Regions from separate parts of the Homo sapiens genome. Here region 1 is linked to region 2. Evidence: fine-mapped expression QTL. A gene starts in region 2. The other region holds a variant in brackets. All regions are shown on one strand. Distances are between the middles of the regions. Region 1 overlaps RGS3 (regulator of G protein signaling 3). Region 2 holds the start of RGS3 (regulator of G protein signaling 3).

Region 1 (10,164 bases), 120 kb after region 2:
CGCCCTCCTGAGCCTCTGACAGAGGAGCTTCAGTCTGTGGTCGAATTCTTCCTTTGCCCCTCTCTCCTCCTGCAGTGGGGCCTCTGTTTAGGGAACGTGAATGGGCAGCTGCCTCCAGGGAACTTGCCACCTCCCCCGTCCTGCTCCAAGGTCATGCCTCTTCTGCACAGGCTCCCCACTATAGAGAGGGTTCTATGTGTTGGAACTGGTCCTGGGCGAGGTTCTGGGCTGGATTTTAGTGCTGATTCTGTTGTATGACCTTGGCCTTATCACTTCCCTTCTCTGGGCCTCACGTAACAGACAGTCACCTTGCCTGTTACCTGACGCCACTCTCCAGAATTGTCTCGTCAGTCAGAAAGAAGTAAAAAGGCCTGGGCCTTACTCCTAGGGACTGTGATGCAGTAGGTCTTAGATTGGGTCCAGACAGGCATTTTTAAGATACTCCTCAGGTGATTCTAAAGTGTACTTCTCCGTTAAGAACCAATAGTCTAGGTCGGTGTTTTTCAAACTTTAATGTGCAAATGAATCTCCTGGGATCCTATTAAAGTGCAGGTTCCGATCCAGTGGGTGTGAATTGAGGTTTACGAATGTGTATTTTATGAGGTCAGGAGATCGAGACCATCCTGGCTAACATGGTGAAACCCCGTCTCTACTAAAAATACAAAAAATTAGCCGGGCGTGGTGGCAGGTGCCTGTAGTCCCAGCTACTTGGGGGGCTGAGGCAGGAGAATGGCGTGAACCCGGGAGGCGGAGCTTGCAATGAGCTGAGATCACGCCACTGCACTCCAGCCTGGGCGACAGAGCGAGACTCCATCTCAAAAAAAACAAAAACAAAAACAAAAAAATGAGTGTGTATTTTATATAAGCTCCTGGGTGATGCTGCTGCTGGCTCTTGGGCTGCACTTTGAGGCTAAGAGTCTAGATGGTCCTGTGAAGTTCACTGGATTGTTCTTTCTTTTTTTTTTTTTGAGACAGAGTCTTGCTCTGTCACCAGGCTGGAGTGCAGTGACGTGATCTTGGCTCACTGCAACCTCCGCCTCTGGGGTTCAAGCCATTCTCCTGCCTCAGCCTCCCGAGTAGCTAGGATTACAGGCGCCCACCACCACGTCCAGCTAATTTTTGTATTTTTGGTAGAGACGGGGTTTCACCATGTTGGCCAGTATGGTCTCGATCTCCTGACCTTGTGATCTGCCCTTCTTGGCCTCCCAAAGTGCTGGGATTACAGGCGTGAGCCACCGCACCCAGCGATTGTTCTTTCATTCATTTATTCATTCAAACACTTCAGGTGGGGAGTGGTCAGACGTGAGGCTACAGGGAGACAGAGCCCAGGGTCTTCCAGGGCTACAGAATTTGGACTTTATCTGAGAGGTATTGGGGAGCCAGCCACAGCAACGTTTTAAGCAGAGGAGTGACAAGTTGAGGTTTGCATGGAGGCAGCTCCCCTGACATAGCACAGAGAATGGCCAGTGGGGTCTGCACCGCCACTGTGAGCCCCACATCATCCTGGTGGGGGATGACAGTGGTCTAGAGGGAAGTGGCAGCAGTGGACATGGAGAGAGTAGAAACATTCTTTTTAAAAAAGATTAATCAACTTTTTAATTTTTTGATTTTTTACTTTTGAGACAGAGTCTCACTCTATTGCCCAGGCTGGAGTGCAGTGGTGCAATCTCGGCTCACTGCAACCTCCGCTTCCTGGATTCAAGCAATTCTCCTGCCTCAGACTCCCAAGTAGCTGGGATTACAGGTGCGCGCCATGTTGCCTGGCTAATTCTCGTATTTTTAGTAGAGACAGGGTTTTACCATATTGGCCAGGCTGGTCTCGAACTCCTGACCTGAGGTGATCCACCCGTCTTGACCTCCCAAAGTGCTGGGATTACAGGCTTGAGCCACCGTGCCTGGCCTCAACTTTTATTTTTTAGAAATTAGCTTTAGAAATTAGTGCAAAGTACAGAGAGTTCCAATATACTTTGTCCTACTTATTGCCAACCTCCCTAGTAAAAAGATCCTTGAAGTTGTATAAGTGATGATCAGGATTTGAGGATTGACCATGGGGGTGGTCACGAAGGAAAAGGAGAAAATGATGGCCAATTCCCTGGTTTGGGCAACTGGTGGTGGCTTCATTGATACAGGGACCATTAGAGGAGGAATGATGGACTTGCGGGGAGATCACACATTCAGTGTAGGGCTTGTAGAGTTGGGGGTACTGATGGGATATGCAGAAGGAGGTCTCCATCCATGTCCCTGGGATGCAGCCACACAGCTGTCCTCTGTGTCAGCAGCATGCTAAGGCTCTTCCTGGCCCGGGGCTTTGGCCTATGCTGCTTCCTCCCCTAGTGAGCCCCGCCCTGCCCCTTGAGCAGATTTCGGTCTCCAGCCATTCCACAGGGCGGCCTTCCCAACACTCCCCTGGACTCTCTCACAGCACCCGAGGGTTTTCCTTCACACTGCAGATCTTGGTTTCTGTTTATCCTGTGTTTATGGCAGTGATGACTTGGTCAATATCCCTCCTTCCTCTCTAGTTCGTAGGCTCCACAAGGACAAGGATCATGTCTTTCTTATTCCTTCCTTTATGCACAGAGCCTAGAACAGTGTCTGGATGCAGAACTATTCCATGAGGATTTGTTGAATACTTGCCTGTGGCATCTCAACTCAGGAAAGCGGTCAGGGCTGGCAGAGTGGACTGCGAGTCATCAGTGGCCAGATGGTGCAGATAGCGATTGTGGCCTGGGGAGTGGGTGGGTTCCCAAGGGAGTGGACAGGACTGTGATGAGAGGGGCCCTGCAGCAGGTCCTGATGGACAGGCAGACAGGCCCATGAGAGGGTGGAGAAGGGGTGAAATTCAGGGAGGGAGATGTTAAGGCCACGCTGTGCTGGAGTGACCATGGCTATCGTTTATTGAGTGCTCATGGGTGCCCTCATGGTGCTGAGCTCTGGATACTCATTAGCTCATTTATTCCTCTAACAACATTGTGAGGAGATTCTAGAAATCCTATGTTATGGCTAAGGAAACTGAGGCACAGAAAGGTTAAGCCAAAGGTCACCCAGCAAGTAAGTGTGAAGTTAGTATCTGGAGCTCCCCCTAATGTAAGTACCGCCTCCATCCTCCTGAATTTTGCCAAACCTGCTGTGTTGGAGACAGTGGAGGTAGAGGGGAGAGGAGTATGGCCTGGAGGGTCTCTGAGCTGGTGGCGGAGGAAGGACTGGGGGTGTCAGCCTCTGGGTGGTCAAGAGGCCAGACCTGGAGGAGCTGGGCTGACGCTGAGCCAGGAGAGCTAAGTGTTAGCTGAGCCATCAAGGTTCCTGGAAGCTAGCATTGAGTCAGGGACCTGAGGCTAGGGATCCAGAGCATGCCAAGCTTGAAGGAACAGCCCATCTTGAAAGCCTGGGGGTCCAAGGCAGGGCAGGAATTCTAACAGCCTCTCCCTTTCTCAAAGGACTTTACAGTTCACAGAGTGCCTTCCTGCCCTTTCTCACTTGGTCCCCTTAGGTCTCTGGCACAGGAAGCAGCAGGCATCCTCACCCACTTTCATGGCAGAGAAAACCAAGCTTGGAGTGGGGTAGCTTGGGATCACACAGCTAGCAAATGATGGAGTGAAGATTCCAGTCCAGGTCTTCTGGCTGCATGTCCAGTGCTCTGTCAGTAAAATCCTGGCTGTTAAGGGCCACCCTGAGACAGAGGCAAACCCCAGTTTACACCCCCCCAGTGCAGGAAGTGGTTTTCGAGGGCAGATGCAGAGCCCGGCATCCGTGGTGGCTGTGATGAATCATCGGAGTGAGAGCTGCAGGTTGTCCCTGGGTCAGCAAACCTGGCTGCTCAGTGAGTAGCTGTGTGATGTTGGACAAGTCACTTTCAGCAGCCCACCACTACCCTCAACCCAACATCCGGTGGGCATCTGGGGCCCAGGAGCCAAAGCTGGTATGAGTGTGAACTCTGGGTGTCATAGCTGCCATCCCTCCTTAGCCTATTCTGAGCTCTGGATTGGATTTGGGAGAGGATTTGATTAGGTCCTAAACAGTGACTCCATTTAGAGGGCCTGGTTCATTTCCTGTGTGCTTACAGCAGATGAGACATGGGCAGAATTAACCTGGTCCAGCCAAGCCAAAGAAGTGATGGATGGGAAAGACACAGACCCCCACCTTGGGAGGGTGGGGCAGTGGCTTCCAGCACTCTAGACCCAAGGCCCTGGGTGAGCAAGCTGGTCTTCCTGGGGCGCCCTGGCTGGATTCTTGTTACTTCAGCTGTTGCAACAGCTGTCTCACTGGGTCCCCAGCTGCCTGT[A/G]CTTCCTCTATCAGAGCAGTCCCCATGCTCCTTCAAACTAGTTGTCTAACCTCTGTTTTTTCTACTTAACTGAGGGCAGAGATTGTGTCTGACTTGTTCCCTGCCGTCCTCCTAGTACCTACCTCAGTGCTTGGAGAATGCATGAATGTATGCGTGCCCCAGTCCTCCCTGCCATCCACACATCCTGCCCACATTCCCCAGAGCAGCTTTGACACAGCACAGCTCTGCCTGTGGCATTTCGTTGCTCACAGGGCAAATCCCATGCCCACCATGTGTTCTGCAACCTCCCCCTCATCTTTGCCTCCCCTCCTGCCCTAATTTTCTCCTACACTTGCCACCCTCCCACCCCTGGGTTTCTCGGGTTTCCTATAATTGCTCCGGAGCTCCCGTCAAACCACTTCCCACCCCAGCTCTCCCAAGAACAGGGGCCTTACCAAACCTGCACGCAGTCCCTGTTCATACAGACCTGCCTGGGAGCACAGAAAGAACCATGAGCTCTGGGCCCTGTTCGCCAGCATCTGCTGATGTGGGATGCACCCAGGTGCGGGGCCTCAGGCAGCACTCCAGGCTGTTCCTCCTCCTTCTACAGCCCTCTGAGGTCCCCAAACACTTGTGTGTAAGGCTCCAAGGAAACAGGGAGAGACCCTGGGCAGGAGATATGAGTTCTAATCCTGCATCAGCCTCTCATTCTTAGGTAATTCCTTTACCCTCTGGGACCCCAGGTTTCTTATCTCTAAAATAAGACCACTGATAGCTCCCATTGTATCAAAAGCTTTTCCAGGGCCAGGCACTGTGAGGAGACTCAAATAGTCCTGTGAGTCCAGTATGATATCACTGGGCTCAATTCCAGATGAGGAAACGGAGGCTCTGAGGTGTTGAGAGGCTTGGCCAGAGTTGCACAGCTAAAAAGTGGCCCCATTGGGATCAAAATCAGCCTGGCTCGGGTATCTGAGCACATAACCACTGGGCCCTCTGAGAACCCTTCCATCTTGGTTAGTTTCTCGGCTGATCTCTCTGGGTAGGTGCCCTCTGGGGGCAGTACCCCTGCCTGAGTGGCACTTCCCCTCCTGGCTTTGTTTGGTTTGGCCTCGATTTAGAACAGGGTTGGCAGAGGCAGGCTGACTTGCATTTCTGGTTTTGGGTTTGTTGCTGCACTTTCCCCAAGGGGTGGGCGGGCTCTGACTGACAGTCACCACTGGGACAGGCCTGGGCCCCACCCTCACCACCCAGGAAAGGGGAAATGCGGCCCGCTCCCCACTCAGTGCCACTCTGTGCCACTCCGTGCCAGGCCCTGAGGGCACCCGGTTGCTGCTTCCTTCCGTCTTTCCCCAAGGACTATCAGAGGCAGGTGGCTGGGCCAGGGGGTGGGTCGGGGGGAGGTCTGGCCATGTGGTAGGGTGATAGGACTGAGGGGCCCCAGGGAGCTGGCTGCAGGGCAGTTTGTTTCTCCTGATGGAGAATGCTCCCTGGTGGGTGGGGCGATGGGCTGGGGACTGGTTTGTTCATGGGGACAGAGATCAGAAGTGGGCTTGAGAAGAACAGGGCCAGAAGGCCTGGACTCTGGCCCCAGCCTAGCCCCTAATTTGTGCAGGGTGGCTTTGGGCAAGTCACTAAGTCACTGTCTAGACTGGGCCCTCAGCCTTCCTGTCTACCCAATGGAGGGTCTTTCTGTCCACCTGGGAACAGCCTGATAGGACTGAAGCACAGCCCTTAGTTTCCAGATGAGAATTCTGGACTGGAGGCCCTGACATTACAATTGCCAACACTGACTCTGGTGTTTGGCAAAATTTGGTGTATGTGGGAAACACGTGCCTCTGGTTGAGGTCCTTAACTTCAGAATTTCCCTCTAGATCAATGCTTTTTAAAGCACTAACTCCAACACCACCATCTTCTGTAGGAGCTTTCGAGCTTTCCAGCTTTTCCAGCATACGCTCCTGATCTGTTACTCAGGCATGCTGGTTATCCCATTTCATACGTGGACACCTTGAGGCCTAAAGGTTGGTGACTGGCTCTACCTGACACCTCTGTGTGATTCTAGGTTGCCCCTTGCTCCTCTCTGGGCCTCAGCCTTTCTGTCTATGCAGTGGGGATTTCGGATCGCTGTTGTTTCAGAGTCTGAGGCTATGAGGTCTGAGAGGGCCCTTGTGTGGAGTCACCTCTGAGCTGCAGGCAGGATTTCCAGGGCAAGAAGGCCACAGCATCAGCAGGCACCTGTCTTTGGCCTGTGAGCCATAGCCTAAGGCGTGCCCTTCCCGACCTTGGCCAGATCACGCTAGAGTCCTCCAAGGCCTCCCCTCCCTTGCCCAGCCACCTTCTCTGCTCTGCAGGGCTCCACTTTCACTTTCACACTCCCAGGCTGTGGCTCTTACCCGTGCCGAGCTTTCACATCCGCTCACATCTGTGCTCCCAGATGCCAGCGTGACCCCTGACACGTGTGTGCAGCAGCCTGCAGCTGCCCCAAGCCATGGCTGAACACTGACTCCCAGCTGTGGGGCTTCACCATTACAGACTCCCCAGGGCTTCAAAGACTTCTCAGCTTCGAGCATGGCTTTTGGCTGTCAGGGCAGCTGTACAATAGTGGGTAAGTCACCGGCCTTTGGGCTCAGTTTTCTCATCCATCAAATGGACATTAATGATTTCTACAATGAGAGCTCTTAACCCATGTTCTGGGGGTACTTACCCCTGAAGTTTTCTGCCAGTGTGCGCGTGTGCCCGCAGGTGCACACATTCCCAAGCATCTGTTCAGTTCCCGAGTATGGGTGAGGTCTTTCCCTTTCATTAGTTCTCAGCAGCTATGGCTTCTTGAAGACAGAACCTGGGCTCTAAATAAATAGTTCCAGCTCCGGCATTCCTGGTCCTTGACTGGGAGGGGCCCACCCCAGACTTGAGAACTGCCTCCCTGTGTGGTTGTGGCACCATGGACACTCCTGACTTTCTCGGGGCCCCAATCTTCTGGTGACATAGCTGCTATTCAGACTTTCATTAAGAGAAATGTTTTTCTCTTTGCACATGAAATCTACTGTCGAAACTCAGCAAAACCCCCTAGGATCCCGAGGGTTGTGTGTGAGGCAGGAGATGCTGTGTTTTTTGAGGAATCCCTGAGCTTCCTCCAAGCAGTTTAAAAATCCCTGGGTGGGTGATTCTTCAGGGAGGTTCCGTGTGTCTGCGACATCTGGTGAGTCCAGGTGTGGACAATATTTTAAAGTTCCGGTTTCATTCCAGTTTAATAGTTTCAAAAAGATACTTAAGCGTTCAGAGCACATTCTTGTTTGAATGACTCATTAGGATTTTTTAAACTTGAGTTCAGGTAGAAGACACCCTGGGCTGGGTTCAGTGACTGCCCTGGCTTGGTTCTGGTCCATAAGCAGAGACTGCCTGGTTCTCCTTTATCCCCAGAGGCAACTTTGACCCTGTTTCCTTTTCTGTAAAATGGGGACAGTGATGCTTCTTTTATAGGGTTGTCGGGAAGGCCACATAAGAGAGTGGGGTCAAGCTGGCCTGGCACCTGCCAAAGCAGGAGCTAGATAGATAGTGGTTATCTCTCCCTCTTCTCCTATAAATGACCAGCTGTGTTTTTGATGGAGCAGAAAGTTCAAGCAAGAAGACAGGGTGAGAATTGTTACCCAGCTAAGTCAAAGGGGCTTTGGGGGTTCCATCTGGCACCTCAGCTTTCAGACTGGGGGCCCGGGGTTCAGGCCACTGCCTGATTTCATGTCAGCTCATGCATGGTGTCTGGCATCTTGGAGCCTCCTCTTCTGAACTGTTCTTGTTTTCTTTTTGTTTCCCAGATGTTTGAGACGGAGGCAGATGAGAAGAGGGAGATGGCCTTGGAGGAAGGGAAGGGGCCTGGTGCCGAGGATTCCCCACCCAGCAAGGAGCCCTCTCCTGGCCAGGAGCTTCCTCCAGGACAAGACCTTCCACCCAACAAGGACTCCCCTTCTGGGCAGGAACCCGCTCCCAGCCAAGAACCACTGTCCAGCAAAGACTCAGCTACCTCTGAAGGATCCCCTCCAGGCCCAGATGCTCCGCCCAGCAAGGATGTGCCACCATGCCAGGAACCCCCTCCAGCCCAAGACCTCTCACCCTGCCAGGACCTACCTGCTGGTCAAGAACCCCTGCCTCACCAGGACCCTCTACTCACCAAAGACCTCCCTGCCATCCAGGAATCCCCCACCCGGGACCTTCCACCCTGTCAAGATCTGCCTCCTAGCCAGGTCTCCCTGCCAGCCAAGGCCCTTACTGAGGACACCATGAGCTCCGGGGACCTACTAGCAGCTACTGGGGACCCACCTGCGGCCCCCAGGCCAGCCTTCGTGATCCCTGAGGTCCGGCTGGATAGCACCTACAGCCAGAAGGCAGGGGCAGAGCAGGGCTGCTCGGGAGATGAGGAGGATGCAGAAGAGGCCGAGGAGGTGGAGGAGGGGGAGGAAGGGGAGGAGGACGAGGATGAGGACACCAGCGATGACAACTACGGAGAGCGCAGTGAGGCCAAGCGCAGCAGCATGATCGAGACGGGCCAGGGGGCTGAGGGTGGCCTCTCACTGCGTGTGCAGAACTCGCTGCGGCGCCGGACGCACAGCGAGGGCAGCCTGCTGCAGGAGCCCCGAGGGCCCTGCTTTGCCTCCGACACCACCTTGCACTGCTCAGACGGTGAGGGCGCCGCCTCCACCTGGGGCATGCCTTCGCCCAGCACCCTCAAGAAAGAGCTGGGCCGCAATGGTGGCTCCATGCACCACCTTTCCCTCTTCTTCACAGGACACAGGAAGGTGAGAAAGCTAAAGGGGGAGGGAGAAGGATACATGCAATGTGGGGAGGGCTGGCCCAGGGGCTGCAGGGAATGAGAAGTCACCATGTTCCACCCCCACTATCCTGGCAGCCTCCCAGCGAACTTTCCACCTGTTGGACAGAAGATAAAACTGAGGCCCAATGGGACCAAGAAGGCAGAGCATGGACTTAAACACATGACTTTAGGATTCCAGATGCTGTGTTCTTATAGCTCCACTGGTCCCCACAGAAAGCAGAGCAGGTGTAGCTTAGCCCAGGCCATTGTGTATTTGGATTTAAAAGATCTGAGATAGTAGCTGGAGAAATAGAGTTACAGCCTAGCCAGACTAGAAATCCATCAGCCAGTCACAATGACAACACACATTTATTCCGTGTCCACATTATCCTAAGCAGTTTACATTAACTCATTAACTCTCACAACAGCCCTTTGAAGTAGATAGTATTTTTGTGCCCATTTTACAGCAGAGGAAACCGAGGCAAAGAGAGGTTATCTAACTTGCTCCAGGTTACACAGTGTATCAGTGTCTGAACTAGAATTAGAATCTGGTTCCAGGGCCAGTGCTCTTAACCAACCACCACACCGTTTGCCTCTCGTGAATATTTATATGTAGATGAATAAGTATTTATGGATTTCCTGCTGTGTACCAGGCCCTGCGCTCTGCAACATGGCAGGAGCCACAGAAGTGTGTGAGGCTGGTCTCAACCTGAGAGAAATAAGTTAACTGTGTGAGCCTTGAAAGTGGCCTAACAGTGAACAGATTGCGCCATGATCTTGAAGCCTACCAGCTAGTTTGGGTCTGGGCTCTGTTTCTTACTATGTGGCTTTGGTTGAGTCACTCAACTCCTCTGAGCCATAGTTTTCTTCTCTGAAAAGTAGGGGTTAATAGCACTCACATCCCAGAATGGTTGAGGATGAATGGAAGAGGCTGGTGCCTGATAACACTAGCCGCTTGAGAGGCGGCCCTCAGGGAATGCTGGGCCCCACTCCTTCTCTTGAAATGCAACAGCCAGTGCAAGGTGTTGGTGTGAGGCTAGGTGAGTAGGGGTGCTCAGTGCCCATGGAGCACAACTGACTCAGAGATCTAGAACTTCAGGAGGAC
Region 2 (10,164 bases):
TTCAGAACCCAGGAAAAAAATGAAGATTTGTCAGTGCTAGGTAGGAAGCTAGACAGAGACAAAAACCAAATAAGGTTAGAAACAGGAAACTATAGACAAAAGGTCAAAGGTAAAAATCTCTTCATAGACCAATTTGACTGATGCCTATAGATGTAAAAATACTAATAAAATATTAGCAAATCAAATCCCACAGTGTATGCATGATCGAGTCAGTAGAGACGGGGTTTCACCATGTTGCTCAGGCTGGTCTCAAACTCCTGACCTCAAGCGATCCGCCTGCCTTGGCCTCCCAAAGTCCTGGGATTACAGGCGTGAGCCACTGTGCCTGGCCAAATTCATTTTTTTAGTTAAAAACATTTTACATTTTTCTGGCCATAGAAAAGTCTTTAACTTTAAAAATTTTCACCCAACCATTTGAAAATGTAAAATGCATCCTTAGCTCACCTGTTGTACAAAAACAGGCAGCCAGCCAGATTTGGTTGGTAGGCCATAGTTTGCCAACCCCTGCACTAATATGTTCACTAAATTTGAACCATTTTTGCATCTCTAGGATAAATACCAACTTGATCATGAATATACTGTTGGATTTGATTTGCTTGTATTTTATTAGTATTTTTACATTTATATTCATAAGTCAGATTGGGCTATGTAGAAATTTCAAACTAGCTGTGGGGTATAGATGTATTCTATTTAGCCTTCATAACATTTTAAAACATTTTGAATGAGTTATTAATATTAACAAATTGGGAAATATTACATGGATTATTTAAGATTGCTGGCTTTTCTTTAAAAAAAAGTGACAAAACTGGGAGAATGTTGGCCTAGTTTCGCCACATTTTAATAGATCTGCTCTATTGTATATTTTCTTTCTTTTTTCTTTTTTTGAGACAGAGTCTTGCTCTGTTGTCCAGGCTGGAGCACAGTGGCATTATCTTGGCCCACTGCAACCTCTGCCTCCCGGGTTCAAGTGATTCTCATGCCTCAGTCTCCCGAGTAGCTAGGACTACAGGCGCATGCCACCACACCTGACTATCTTTTGTATTTTTAGCAAACATGGGTTTCACCATATTGATCAGGCTGGTCTTGAACTCCTGACCTCAGGTGATCCATCCATCTTGGTCTCCCAAAGTGTTGGGATGACAGGCATGAGCCACTGCATCCAGCCTCTATTGTATATTTTCTATTTAATTAACTTCTATTCTTACTTTTATCTTTTACCTTTGGTCTATAGTTTTCTGTTTCTAACCTTACTTGGTTTTTGTCTTTGTCTAGCTTTCTACCTAGCGCTGACACATCTTTGTTTTTTCCTATGTTCTGAAATAGTTAAAACTACATTAGCATCATCTGTTTCTTGAAGATCTTATAGAATTAGCCTCTTAAAACTATCTGGATTTTCTATAATTTTGTCGAATAGAGTTTTGGTTTCCTTTTCTATTTTATCTATAGTTAGTGATCTATTAAAAATTTCAAACTTTTTATCAATTTTACTAATTAATACTTTCTAGAAAATCATCCAGTTCCTTTCAGATTTTCAAATTTATACAATAAGGTTGCAGTGGTTTTCTCTTATAATTTAAAATATTAGCCAGCACGGTGGTTCACGCCTATAATCCCAGCGCTGTGGGAGGCCAAGGTGTACGGTTCACTTGAGGTCAGGAGTTCGAAACCATCCTGGCCAACATGGTGAAAACCTGTCTCTACTAAAAATACAAAAATTAGCTAGGTGTGGTGGCGCGTGCCTGTAGTCTCAGCTACTTGGGAGGCTGAGGTATGAGAATCGCTTGAACCTGGGAGTGAGCTGAGATTGTGCCATTGCACTGCAGCCTGGGTGACAGAGCGAGATTCTGTTTCAAAAAAAATAAAAAAAAAGAGGCCGGGCTCAGTGGCTCACACCTGTAGTCCCAGCACTTTGGGAGGCTGAGGTGGGCAGATCACCTGAGGTCAGGAGTTTGAGACCAGCCTGGCTAACATGGTGAAACCACCTTTCTACTAAAAATACAAAAAATTAGCCGGGCATGGTAGTGTACACCTGTAATCTCAGCTACTCGGAAGGCTGAGGCAGGAGAATTGCTTGAACCTTGGGAGGCGGAGGTTGCAGTGAGCAGAGATCGCACCACTGCACTCCAGCCTGGGCAACAAGAGAGAAACTCTCTCAAAAAAAAAAAAAAAAATCACCTGTATATCTTGGCTTTCTCTTCCCTAAACTTGCTTATTTCTGGTTTTCTGTATACATTTTGCCAGAGGTCTATTTTACTGAACTTTTCAGAGACAAGGCTTTGGTCTTATTGTTGAAGTTTATTTTTTTGAGGATAAATTTCACCTTTAACCTTATTTCCTTTTAAAATTTTCTCCTGGCCAGGCGCAGTGGCTCATGCCTGTAATCCCAGCACTTTGGGAGGTTGAGATGGGCAGATCGCAAGGTCAGGAGATCGAGACCATCCTGGCTAACAGGTAAAACCCCGTCTCTACTAAAAATACAAAAAATTAGCCGGGCGTGTTGGCGGGTGCCTGTAGTCCCAGCTACTCGGGGGGTGCTGAGGCAGGAGAATGGCGTGAACCCAGGAGGTGGAGCTTTCAGTGAGCCGAGATTGCGCCACTGCACTCCAGCCTGAGTGACAGAGTGAGACTCCGTCTCCAAAAAAAAAAAAATTTTTTTTTCTTCTGAATTAGCTTATTCCTCTTCTAACTTTTTGAAATGAATTTTTAGTTAAAACACTTTAAATCTTTGTTATTTTCTAAATAAATTATCCCCTTGAACTTTCTACTCTAATTCCATCGATCTGTCTTTTCTTTTTAGTTTTATATTATTTAACACCATTTAACATCTGGTAGTACAAGTTCCCTTTGTTATTATTTTTCTAAGTTTTCTTGGTTATTATTGGGCTAGATGATATCTTAAAGTCACTAAGATTCTTTGAGAGTTATTGTGAAAATGCACCCAAATAAATCCATTTAGTCCCTTCTTTTCAAACTCAAGTATTCCTTATTATTCCAGATATAGTCAGTCTTTAAAAAAATGCCTAAAATCATTGCTCGATACTTTATTAAGTGCTTCAAATCAATCTGTATATATGCATATGGTATATATGTAGTGTATGTGTTTTGTGTGCATGTGTCAGTGTGATGTGTGCTTATATATATGCATAGGATGCATATATAATGTGTGGGGTGTGTTTGTATATGTATGTGAGGTGTGTATGTAGTGTGTTTATGTATGTGTATATGTGCATATGATGTGACTGTGTGTGTACATGGGATATGTTGAGGTATGTGTATGTATGTGTGCAGAGTGTATGATTGTTATCGTGTGTGGTATGATAATGTATGTGTGGAGTGTGTGTGCACATGTGTGAGGTGGAAGAACCCCAGGGGGTGCTAGAATGCTCAGGACATGTGAGAAAGCCAGGCTTGGTCCAACTCTCCTGCCTTCTTGGGGAAAGCAGGGCCATGATCATGAGCCTTTCTGGATGTTGCTTTTGGACAGCAGTGTGGGTTAATAGGGCCAGTCTCTCCTGAAGTGCCCTGCCCAAGCTCCCACTCACCTCTCTCCTCCATCTCTTGAGGAAAGGGTGACCGACCTGTCCTTTTAGGAAAAGGAAGCTTCCAGCACGCTACTGAGTAAAGGAGCCTTACTGGTGGTGGTGAAGGTGATACCATCAGAGGGGCCAGCTCAGGATCAGGCTGGCCTTGCAATCTTCCAACTGAATATGTTAGCTGCAGAGTGGGGCAGGAGTCAGGAGGGGACCTACAAAGCAGTAGAATCTTTGTTCCCATTACCGGGTGTAAGTGCCCAGTGTGGGCCTCGGTCTTTTCTCTCCTAGGTCACATTCAGACAGCACACCTTTGCCCAATTTTCTTTCTGGATCTCACCGTCCTGAGTGTTGTACCTGCAGGTTGCTCACAGCCTCTGGAGCCCAAGATAGTCTCCCCTTTGGGAGGAGGCTCTACAGTGGTCCCTGGCGAAGTTGTGAAGAGGTGACTATCATCTCAGGCACATCACCTTCCCTTTTCCCTGTGGGCCTTCCTTTGCTGTTTCCTGAACACCATGCTTTCTAGTTCCTACTGGGAGTGAACACACCTTGCATGGAGCATCTTCAGGCCATGGCTAACTCATGCTCCCATCTTGCTCCTGCAGGTCTGCCACGTCTCTGTGCTCAGTGTCCTCTCTACATCCTGTGGCTTGAGCCTGAGCTTGCCCATATTCCCTGGCTGGATGGAGTGGCTAAGCCCTGATATCGCTCTGCCCAGAAGAGATGAGTGGACTCAAACTTCTCCAGCCAGGAAGAGGATCACGCATGCCAAAGTCCAGGGTGCAGGTAAGTCCATCTGTCACTGGCTTGAGGCTAGGAGAGTGGACCTGCTCTTGTTAAAGGCAGTGTTCACCATGTGTGTGTGTAACCGGGGTTGGAGGGGGAGAGTGGGGTGGGGTGGGGGGGTGCAGTAAAGAGCAGGGCAGGACTTCACGAAGTGCCAGGATTCAAACAATCCTACGGCATTTATGTGATTTATCACCAGTTTGCTGATTCAGGGCTCCTTCTGCAGTTTCTGCTCCTCGCTGGTGGCCACCTGACCCTGTGGCGTTTGCTCCTTCCACCTGCTGTTGGCCATGGGGCAGATGTGGAGGCCAAGGAAGAATAGGACAATGGCGTTTGGGGCAGACAGGCCTGGGTTCAAATTTCAGCTCTGCCTATTCCTAGCTCTGCAAACCTTGGGCATGTCACCTGTCTTCTCTGCCTGAGGTTCAGATTTCTTCCTGGTAAATTGGGGCTAATACTTATTAGACTTACCGTGAAGATTAACTGAGATGATGTGTGTAAATTGCCCAGCTCAGCTCAGCCTCTGGCATCTGGTACTCAACACATAACTCTTCTCTCCACTTTCTGTCTTGCATCTCCCCATCTTGTTTTTGAGTGGATCACTGAACCACAAATATCCACTTGGCGATGAAGTCTGGGGAACAGGGACAAATACCAACACTTCCCATTTTTAGATTTACACGAGACTAACAGCTTTCCTTCCCACAGTGGCAACAGAGATTTGCAGAGCAGATGTCTTGGTGTGAAACTGCTACGAGGAGGTGTCCTGTAAATGTTTGCTGACAAAGCAGCAAAGCAGGGTTTGACCTTCCAGCTCTGCCTCCCCGCACCAGGCTGGGGGATTCACCCACCCCACTCCGTTTCCTGTGCGTTCCTCTTTCTCAGAGGCTGTGGGCCTGTCCTGCTGTCCGATGGCATCAGGCTGTGGGACGGGGGGCCATCAGGTTGGTTGGAGCAAGCTGCTCCCATCCGGACCTGTGTCAGGCAGCACTTGTTCAAGAGGAGGCTCAAGAGAGTGATCCAGGATGCAGGGTTTGGGAAGAGGATGCAGCATGGTGGGGGGCGACCTGTCCAAGCGCAGAGAACACTTTTCCAAACCTCACTGCCCTGGGCCATCGGGTGCTCCTTTGCCTTTGCTTGGATCTAATGATTATAGGCCTGAGCTTCAAAGCAGGTTATAAACCCGACTAATTGCTGGTCTAGGAGAGCTGGACGAGGAGGCCAAGCCTGCCCAGAGTGGGCACCCCGGACTGGGCCTTCTCGTGGGACTGGCATTTCCAACCGGGAGCGCGGTGCTGGGGCCGGGATACCCGGGGTGGCCGCACCGTCCTGCTGGCTCCTTGGGTGGCTGCCGTCGCTGCTCAGCGCGGGTCGGCGGCGCCGCCTCCCCCACCCCGGCCCAGCTCTGCTCCGGCAGGTGGAACTCTCCCCATTCAAACCCGCGCGGGCCAATCAGGGCCGGGCGCGCCCTGGCCGTTCCAACGCTTGGGGCAGCCCTACCTCCCGCTCGCGCTCCTCCCGCCCTGGAGACTCCGGTTACTGGGGAGCAACACAGCCGCCTCGGGTTGCAGACGCTCCTGTCCGGGTCGCAGTGGGACGCCATGGAGCGCTCCCTGCACCGCGTCTCCCTCGGGAGCCGGCGTGCCCACCCGGACTTGTCCTTCTACCTCACCACCTTTGGTAAGTGCCCGCTGGGGCTGGCGGCAGGGGCTGCTTCACCCTGCTCCCAGCGCCCAGAAACGCAGCCCCTCGTGGTGACAGGGGAGGCTGGGAGCAGGTGCTCTTTCTATCTAGGGGCACCTTCTCTGGCCCCTTTCTCCTGTGACTGCCCAGGAGGGGCTCAGGGCACAGGCTCAGTCCAAGCAAGCTGCTGGACACCACCTGCTGCCCGGCCATGAGTGCCAACTGCGGTTGGTTCTGCCTCACTTGGCTGGAATAATCACGCTCTGGTTAATCTTTCAGAGACCTGGGTTGTCACCACGGAGTTTCTCATTAGCAAGCAGCTCAGGTTAAATCAAGGTCTTGTTATAGCAACTGGAGATCTCATTCACCCACTTTCCTTTGGCTCAGGGAGCGGACAGGTGCTGGGCCCTTTGGCCCTGCTGCCTTGTGGGGAGGCTGCAATTTGACTTTGTTGGGTATCTGAGCCACAGTGGAGATGGGAGAATTCTCTCCTCCAAGAAAGAACAATCCCTTAGGAGGGTCCCAGGGCTGCCTCAGGGTTTGAGGTGGAAAGAAGTGAACAGTAGGCTTCACTCCCAAGCCCCTAAGTAGCAGACTGAGTTCCCCCAAATAACAGCTGGGCGGCAGCTGCCCAAAGGTCTGGGCAAACCTGGCCTTCCTGGTAGCCATAGTAAAGGTAACAACCCTACCCTTGAGGGTAACCCTTCATTTCCTCACTGGTCCTGCAACTCTCTGTGGAGAGGGGTTATTTTTCCTCTGTGAAGACTTGAAACCAAGAGATCTTCCATGAGCCAGTGGCAGAGTTCGTAGCTGAGCTCAAGCTTTCCAGAGATGACCTGTCCAGCGCATTTTTGTTTGAACTTGCATACAATTTCCTTCTAAAGGTTGGGGCTGTTACTGAAACATTACTGGACATTGCCCAGCTTTCAAAGACAGAGTGCCCAAGGAGTTTGGTCCCTCCCTGGGGTTCCTGGCTCTTCTGTTTTCAGGCTTACTCCTGCTCAACATATTTGGTTTTCCACAACCTGCTTTTTTTCCTTAGGGGTAGAGGGAATGATGGAAGAGCAGTGGCTTGGCCTCTGAAATTGCCTGACGTCTGGCAGCAGGAATTCACTGGTCTAGTTGGTGGACGATAAAGGGCAATTAACTAGCCATCATTTGTTGAGAACTTACCATTGCCATTCCTTATGCCAAGTGTTTTACCTGCATTATCTCACTTAATGCCCCAGCGTAGGAGGCAATTCCTGCTAACCCCATTGGGATGCAGGGCTCTGTGAGACAAGGGTGGTTTCCAGGATGATCTGTATTGGCTGGGGTAGGAGTGATCAGGAAAGGGTGTCAGGGAGCTGTGAGGCCCTCTTACCTTAGCTGTGTCCTGATTAAAAAGTAAAAATATGTTTGCTTTTTTCCTCCTTATTATCATGGTTACATGTGTTTACTGCTGAAAACTTAGTGAAAAGAAGAAAGTGAAAATCACTTGTAATCTGACTTCCCAGGGAGACCACTGTTAACTTTCTGATTTATATCCTCCCAGGCTTATTTCCACACCTATTTCTGTGTGTGTGTGTGTGTGTGTGTGTGTGTGTGTGTGTGTGTGCCTGTGTGTATTTAGGGGTCAAATTTCAACACAATTGAGATCAAGTTTGTATGGACAATTTTGTAACCCATATGTTTTCCTTAGTGGCCTGATGTGAATATTTCCTTGCATTGGTCCATGTTCTTCTATTAGATTAATCTGCCTGCCAGATCTGGGAAGCTGAGGAGGGTTCAGGCCCAGCAGGGAGTGGATCTTCCTGCCCAGCCATGGCCTCAGGGCTGAGTCTGATGGGTATCAGGGAAGGCTGCTGCTTGAACAAGTGACTGTGACCTGAGTGTGCAGGAGGCAGACAGGAGCCTGGGTGGGGTGGGAAGCCACCTGCTCTTATTCGTGCAGGCTCCTCTCACATCTCTCTAAGGATGCTTATGAGAGCATTTGAGAAATTCTCTCCTGTTTCCTGCACTGGCTCTGTTTCCCTGGGTGCCATTTGTCGTGGTGCCCCTCTTTCAGGCTGCTGATTTTCTTTATCCACTGTGATCTTCACTGATCTGCTTATGAGCAAAGATTCCTATCAGTGGTTTCCAAACCCAGCCAAATATCAGAAGCATGTGGGGAGCCTGTTAAAAATACACAGATTCCTAGAATCTTCTTCTGGAGACTCTAGTTTAATAGGTCTGGGGTGGAGCCTGAGAATATGAACACTTAAGAAGCCATAGAGCGTTCAGACTGTCATCCAGGTTTGGAAGCTATGGATTCAGAGTCAGTTTTGGTAGCAATTGGGACCACTTTTACTGTGAAGGTTTTGGCTAAGTTTTTCTCAGTTCACTGGCCTTTCCTTAGCAAAGTAGGTAGCCCCTGGCCTTCTACTGTGAGCTTTGCCTTGGTAGAACCAGATGAAGATGTTGCTTAGCTGGTAGTTTCCTGAGCACAGACATGTAAAGGGAGCATAATCATCTATGGAAATATAAAGAGACAAAACTGTTTTGATGAGAATTCCCTTCGGGGAGAGTACTGCATGATATATGTATTTGTGTGTACACATGAACACAACCCCTTGTCCCCCAAAAGGAGTATGTTCAAGTGACATTAATTGAAGGACACTGCGTTCTGAGGAGGTGGCCTTACTTCAGGGGAAGGGAGTAGGCAAGCTGAGGCTAGGACCCAACTACTCTAGAGGGATTTTTTTTTCTTTATTGTGAAAAATGATGTAATTTGAAGTCATTGTAGGTATACATAATATTTTTCTCCAGGATTGTATATTTTATTTTGATTAGGATATTTGCTGATTTTTCTTGTAACAGCTTTATTGAAATATAATTCAGATATATACAATTCACTCATTTAAACCATACAATTCAATGGTTTTTAGTATATTCACAGAGATGTGTAACTATTATCACAATTTCAGAACATTTTCATTCCCTCAAAAAGAGACATTATGCTCTTTAGCTTGTACCGTCCTCCCTTGTCCCGAGCCCAAAGCAATTGCTAATCTATTCTCTCCCTCTGTAGATTTGCCTGTTCTGGACATTTCATATAAATGGAATCGTATTTTTTTTTTTATGACTGACTTCTTTCACTTAGCATAATGTTTTCAAGTTTAATCCATGTTGTAGCAGATATCATACTCCATTCATTTTTATGGCTGAGTAGTATTCATTGTATGGCTATACCACATTTTAAAAATTTATTCATCTGGTGATGAATATTTTGGCTGTTTCTCCCTTTTGACTATTATGAATAATACTGCCATGAACATTTGTGAACAAGTTTTTGTGTGGACAAATGTTTTCATTTCTCTTCATATACACACAGTATATACCTAGGAGTAGATTTGCTGAGTCCTATGGTAACTCTGTGTTTAACTATTTAGGGAACTACCAAACTCTTTTCCAAAGTAGGTGTATCATTTTATGTTCCCATCAGCTGTGTATATGGGTTTTGGTTTTTCCACATTCCTTACCAACACTTGTTATTATCTGACTTTTTAATTCTAGCTATCCTAGTGGGTGTGAATTGATATTCACTATAGTTTCGATTTGCATTTTCCTGATGACCCGTGATGTTGAACATTTTTTCATGTGCTCATTATTTATATATCTTCTTTGGAGAAGAATGTATTCAGATCTTTTGTTCATTTTAAAATTGGGCTTTTTGTCTTGTTATTATTGAGTTGTAAGATTTCTTTATATATTCTAGATGCAAGCTCCTTAACCGATATATGATTTGCAAATATTTTCTCTCTATCTGTGGGTTTTTTTCACTTTCTTGATAGTGTTCATTGAATCCCAAACTTTTTTTGGGGATGGGGTCTTGTTTTGTTGCCCAGGCTGGAGTTCAGTGGCATGATCATGGCTCCTCTTTGACCATGCAGCCTCAACCTCCTGTGCTTAAGCGATCCTCCCACTTCAGCCTCCTGAGTAGCTGGTACTACAGATGTGCACCACCATGCCTGGCTAATTTTTCTTATGTAAAAAAAACTTTTTGTAGAGATGAGGTTTCCCTATGTTGCCCAAGCTAGTCTTGAACTCAGGGACTCAAGCGATCTCCTGCCTTGGCCTCCCAAAGTGCTGGGATTATAGGCATGAACCACTGTGTCCAGCCAGAACCCCAAACATTTTTAATTTT

Evidence for each region.
Region 1: its variant is fine-mapped to the expression of RGS3 in whole blood (TOPMed, PIP above 0.99).

Annotation. Positions count from the first base shown.
Region 1 is chr9:113,575,383-113,585,546 of GRCh38, forward strand. It overlaps RGS3 (regulator of G protein signaling 3), which reads left to right. Exons shown (of 23, transcript NM_001394167.1): 18 at 8,068-9,045. Among named protein-coding and RNA genes, the nearest start is that of RGS3, 120 kb to the left of the region's middle. RefSeq lists enhancers at 3,739-3,828, 6,310-6,359, 6,520-6,689, 6,587-7,095. The variant A/G (reference allele first, on the strand shown) is at 4,280.
Region 2 is chr9:113,457,886-113,468,049 of GRCh38, forward strand. RGS3 (regulator of G protein signaling 3) reads left to right here and starts at 5,842. Exons shown (of 23, transcript NM_001394167.1): 1 at 5,842-5,996. The coding sequence starts at 5,918. RefSeq lists enhancers at 4,745-5,699, 5,700-6,654.